2 separate regions of the Homo sapiens genome follow, and region 1 is linked to region 2. The links come from fine-mapping of genetic effects on gene expression. A gene starts in region 2. The other region holds a variant in brackets. All regions are shown on one strand. Distances are from middle to middle.

Region 1 (2,906 bases), 21 kb before region 2:
CAGGATGCTTTGTGGGGCAAAGGGAAAGGCCACAAACACATAATAAGCCCAGACTGCAGAAGGCCTTGAAATCCAGGCTAAGTCTGATTTTCCTCCCTTCCTGCTCTTTGTGTAATATCTTTATATGGTGTGTCTGCTCAGACATTTGCATATTTCAGTGTTTTCTTAGAAGACAAGGAGTAAGTCTATTGTAATTTAATTGGTACAATGAAAAGAACGATGGAACTATGAATAATGCCCCTTAAACACTACTTGTAAATGTTGATGATGATGGCACCAATTCTTTACAGTGGTAGGGGGACATAGTTAACCACATGCTGAAGTCTCCATGGTTTTTATAGCTGGTTCCTATTGTGTCCTGTGGTTTGAGTGTGATATGCCTATGACATGGAGCTTTGAGATGGCTGCAGGATCAGATTTTCTTTCCAAACTTCCCCCAGATGATTCCCTCATCTGCTGGGAGTTAACAATATCAGTATAAATCCAGGTTCCTTAGTCAGGCTCTCATCTTGTCTGCCAAGTGTGCTAAATTATTTTAAGCCATTAGAAGCACATGGTAGAGTCCATTATGGATTGGATCACTATTACACAGACTTGGATAGAATACAGATCAAATCCTGACCCCCAAACCACACTACATCCAGGAAAAGCCTATATCCCTAACAACTTGCCTACAAAACCCCCAGCTCTCCTTGTATAAAGGGTCCTGGTATTTTCTCTGGTCAGTGATACAGAAGCTAGATCAAAACTGCTCACCATTTCAGCGTGTCCCTCAGAGGGTAGGATGGAGGGCAAATAAACTTCTCAGCCTCAAAATGTCTTAGGGACAAGGAACTCCAAATAGGGTATGGGCTGTTGGAAGGGCAAGGGAACAGGATACTATTTTCCCCATTTTCTCTCTCTATCCCTTACAGTCCTCTCTGTTAACAACAGTAGAGGAAGAGATTGGAACATACAGCCAGGCATGACTCCTAGAGCAGTTGATTGAGCAGAACTCAACAAGTATTAACTAAACAGCTATCATGGACAAAAAGGCACTGAGCCGCATACTATTGAAAATTGAGAAATGAAAAGTCAGTAGCAGACAAAATGACCCAAGCACACAGATAAAATAAGCCTGAGAGGGACGCTAAAAGGGAGATGCAGATAATGTGCCGCTCTCCCAGCTTGTTATCAGGTGAGGTCCCAAGCAGGAGGCTACCTCTGACAGGGCCTGGAGGGAAGAACAGGCTTTTGAGAGATTCCACCGGATTCCAGGTAGAGCAAAAAGCACATAGAAGAAAAGTTCAGGACACACTT[GA/A]AGTAATTGCCCCCGTGACTCCTGAGGAGTGGGAGCACCCCAGAGAGGGTCATGACGGTCTTAGAGCCTTTCCTCCAGCCGGACATGGGGTACCAGGCGACACCACCTGCAGGGGCCACTTCTGAGCAGCCTTCCTCAGCGTGGTAGCCATCACTCAAGGCAATTTCAGACGAACTTCCTGTTCAAGCTGCCCCAGATGCACCGTCTCCCCACCGAGCAGGAAAGGGAAGCAAAGCCCCTCTGTCCTCAAACCTGACTGGGCCTCCTCGGGACTCTAACCTGCCCCTGACCTGGAGAAGGGCAGGGCAGCTGCACATACCAGCTTCCTCGCTCAGCGAGGGGGCCGGGAGCCTGCAAAGCACAAACAGGTGCGGGGCCGACCCGACTGGCGGCCGGGGGCAGCCGGGGACCCGGAGCCCGGGAGAGCCCAGCGCCGAGTCGTGGCGGGCGCCGCAGACCCCGCACCTGCCCTGGGACCCCCCGTTCTCTGCACGCTGGCCGGGAAGCCGGCACCCCTGCAGGAATTGCAGTCCCGTTTCGCACGTTTCCTTAATATTAGGCCACATTCCAGGTGGGACCCTTGCCAACGGGACCGCAACGAAGTTCTGGTTGGGATTTGATTGATTCTGTGATTTGTTCCTCCGGGAGGCCAAGCGCAGGGCACATCTCCCGGCCTTCCTGAGACTGGAGTGCGGGATTTGGAGGCAGGCGGACGCATTCCGGCTTCCTGGGTGCCACCCCGAAGTCAGACTGTCCTGGCACCATTGTGTAGGACAAGAGTGACCTCTAGTGGCCCCTAGGAAAGCACACTGGAGGAAAGGGAGCTGATAACTCAAGCGCAGGCCCATACAAACACACAGTCGGACTTATCTCTCCCCTGCCCCTCCTCCTTTCTCTCCCCCTTCCCTCTCTCCCTCTCTCTCATCATTTAACAATCCAGAAACTGAGACCAGAAGCGGCTGGTCACATACCTAGACCTGCACATTTCATGTCCCAAGCCTGGACTAAAACGGGTTTCTGGCCTTCCTGTCCAGAGTCTTTCCTTCTAGGTAGTAGTTCTTTTGCCCACGTGTTTATATCCAATGTGTCTTTTATTGACGCCTCCTGTGTGAGTGGGCGGACAGAAGAGTGACGGATGAGTAAGACACATGGGCTTCCAATCTAGTGGAGAGACTGACAAGCAGTCAGCTCAGCGGTCACAATACTGTGTGACAGGAGCTGAGATCCAAGAAGTACTGGGTCCTGTGGGAGCACCCCTGACTTGAAGGACAAGTAAGAGTTAGCCAGGAGAAGGAAGCTGGAAGGGAGGAGGAGGGCATATGGAGAAAGGTCCGGGTAGAAGGAAACCGTGTGCAAAACCCCTGTGCTTAGGCCGCGATTAGATAAATGGCCGTAAAGAATGAAAGGAGGTGGGGGTGGAAGGGAGCTGGAAGGGGCGGGAGCTAGAGTGAGCCTCTTGGCGGTTGGAGAAGTAGATAATAGGGCCTGTGCATGGGGACTTCAGACAATGTTCTAAGATCAGCGGGAAGCCACTGAATATTTAGACAGGTCAATATCATGGTCAGATTTCTGTTTATGCAGGATCACTCTGGGCTTGGCATAAAAC
Region 2 (2,906 bases):
TGAAAAGAGCTGTGGAGATGGATGGTGGTGATGGCTGCATAGCATTAGGAATGTAGTTAATACCACTGAACAATACACTTAAAATGCTTAATGATCAATTTTACATTATATGTATTTTACCACAAACAAATTTGAAAAAAAGAAACATGTTGACACAAAAAACCCGTACATAACTAAAAAATAGATTATATTGGATTACATAAAAATGTAAAACTTTGGTGCTACAAATGATACCACTAAGAAAGTGAAAAGACAAGCCACATAATGGGAAAAAAACTTTTGCAAATCAAGTATCTGATAAGGGGCTTGTAACCAGAGCATATAAAGAACTCTTACAACTCAATAATAAAGACAATTTAAAAATGGATAAAGGATTTGAATAGACATTTCTCCAGAGAAGGTACACAAATAGGCAAAAAGCACATGAAAAGATGCCGAACGTCAGGGAAGTGCAAATAAAATCACAAGACACCACTCCACGCTGGGTTACTATACTTAAAAAAAAAAAAATCAACAATAACAAGCATTGGTGAGGATGTGGAGAAATCAGAATCCTCATACATTGCAGTTGGGAAATGGAAATTACCAGTAGGGGAATGAATAAGTAAATAACAGCATATCCATTTGATGGAATTCATTCGACCACTGAAAGCATAGTGAGTGAACGATCTCAACGGTGGGCTGAGCAAAGAGATGCGTGTGGCAGGGCTATGTGCTGTAGATGGGGAGTTGGAAGAATTTGCCCTAAGGTGGGCTGGAAGGGGTGGGTAGTGGGTTGGGGGGAGTGATGCTCTCTTTGATCTGCAGGTGGTGGAAGTATTGATTCTTAGCCTCTGCCTTTCCCCCAAGAGATGCTCAATCTACTATATCCCCAGCCAGTTCTTGCAACCCATACCTTGCTGGGCTGGGCTCAAAGCTCCCAGGTGGCACCCAGGCACTGAGGGGTGGACTGTTCGGGGATTTAGGCCCTTCCAGAGCGCCCCCTCCACTTCCAGGCACCCCCAATACACATACGATTTTTTAAAATAAATATTGCAAACATAGGTTCAACACAAAACTCCTAATGTGCACTCCACTCCCAAAATAGATTGAGAACTCCTATAAATTCCAGCGTTGGCACTCTGGGGGCAACTGAGCCCTTCTGTGCGCTATGTCACCTCCCCAAAGGTCAGGGAGAGCAGTCACAAAAGGACAGCTCTAGCCCCAGAACTTCAGTTCATTAGGCAAAGCCTGAGGTTCCGGGGCATGGGGAGGAGAGAAGGGATCAGCTGAGGAGCCAGGAAACCTGGGTTCTGAGCCTGGTTCGGACCCTCAGCAAGTTATTTCTTCTCTCTGCGCCTCCGTTTCCTCTTCTGTAAAATGGGGCATGGGCAAGGCCTGGCAGGGGCGGGGCTCGAACCCGCGGAAGGCGACGGCGGCTCCGGCCCCTCCCGGGGCGGGCGGTCACGTGCGCGATCACGCGGTCCTACCCGGAAGCGCGCCCGGGCTCCTGCAGGCGGGGCGCTGTGCGCGCCGCGATCCGGTACGTGGGCCTCCGGGCTGTCCCCTCTGGGGGCGGCGATCCTCCCTCCGGAGCCCCCCTTCAACCCTCCCGGAAGTGAGGTAGGGTCCCTAGGGGTCCCGGAGCGGGCCCACTCCTAGCCTCACCCACTCCGGGCGTGTGGCCGTGGGCCGGTCGCTTCCTCGCTCGGGGCCAAAGTTCCTCAGCCGTGAAGAGGGGTGGATGTCACAAGTCAAGCCTCCTTCCCAGGGTGGCCGTGAGGTTCGGGGGTGGGGGGAGGTGGGGATTTGGGGTGAAACTGGACAGAAACTGGCGTGCTAGGCAAACGGGAGCCCCGCGGCGGCGAACTGCTGACTCGCTCTCTCCAGAGACTCAGGGGCAGGGCCGGGCTCCGAAGGTGTGGGACCCCAGAAGGAGCTGCTGAAGACGGGACCAAGGGCCACAGGGAGGTTTGCTGGGGTCCAGATGGTGAAAGTGGGCGCTGGGGGTCGCCCCAGGTTGGCCCCCCGCCATCTGGAGCTCCTTTCGTCAGTGAGTCCCCTCCGAGTTCCCTTTCTAGGGCAAGATAGCGAGGTGAAGCGGAAGTCTCAGTGTGACACCGGCGAGGTTCTCTTCCCAGCAGCCTTTGGGAAGCATCCCCCTGTTTCGGGAATATGGCATTCGGGCCAATCATGTGGGTGATGGAGCCCGTCTCAGGGTTCGGCTGCTAAAGGCCGAACTCGTAACAGCAGTCTCTGTGGCGGGTAGTCACTTGCCTCTTACTGGCTCACAGTGCTTGACTTCCTAATTAAGTTTTCTGTTGTTCCTGCCCTCTATTCAAATATGAATGATTCCGGAACCAGATTGATTAATCCTGTTATTTGAAGAAGGGAAGCTGGGAAATAGGAATAATGATCCCCACACCTATGTAAGAACGCAGTTTGCTAAGGTTACTTTGCAGCTTGCCTGGTCACTCCCATGATCTAACCCTGTAGGGAGGTAGAGTAGGGGATGTTGCTCTGTTTCTCCGCAGGAGTTTGAGGCTCAGAGAGGTTTATGGGACTTGGCAAAGCCAAAACTAGAACCTGGTCCCAGATGCCTTTCCTGTTAGTTTCCTTCCATTCATCGTATCATCCCAGGATCCCCACTCCCTTCACCGGGACTGCATCCTCACCACCTGGGATGTGCTATGCTGTCTCCCGTCAGTCACTCCTAGCAAGCTCCCTGGGGCTGCTTGGGGAGCTCTGAGTGACCCGCAGAAGTGAGAGCACTTCATGGGAACAAAGGAGGAAGGAACAAAAGTGGGCACCTGCTCTGTGCAAAGGGCTGTGCTGGCCGGGTTCCTATTCTCCATTATGGGAGGTGAGGGGCAGGATCCCAGATATGTTCTTAGCAGACTGCCTCAGGGCCTGGAGAGACCAGGGAC

Evidence for each region. PIP is the estimated chance that this variant, and not a neighbour inherited with it, causes the effect.
Region 1: its variant is fine-mapped to the expression of HPS1 in B cells (CEDAR, PIP 0.95).

What each region holds. Positions count from the first base shown.
Region 1 is chr10:98,466,798-98,469,703 of GRCh38, reverse strand. The region is part of intron 11 of HPSE2 (heparanase 2 (inactive)); the gene reads left to right. Among named protein-coding and RNA genes, the nearest start is that of HPS1, 21 kb to the right of the region's middle. RefSeq lists silencers at 1,658-1,757, 1,808-1,857. The variant GA/A (reference allele first, on the strand shown) is at 1,300.
Region 2 is chr10:98,445,503-98,448,408 of GRCh38, reverse strand. It overlaps HPS1 (HPS1 biogenesis of lysosomal organelles complex 3 subunit 1), which reads left to right and starts at 1,474. Exons shown (of 20, transcript NM_000195.5): 1 at 1,474-1,602. It overlaps HPS1-AS1 (HPS1 antisense RNA 1), which reads right to left and starts at 2,088. Exons shown (of 3, transcript NR_134454.1): 1 at 1,652-2,088. RefSeq lists a silencer at 1,307-1,656.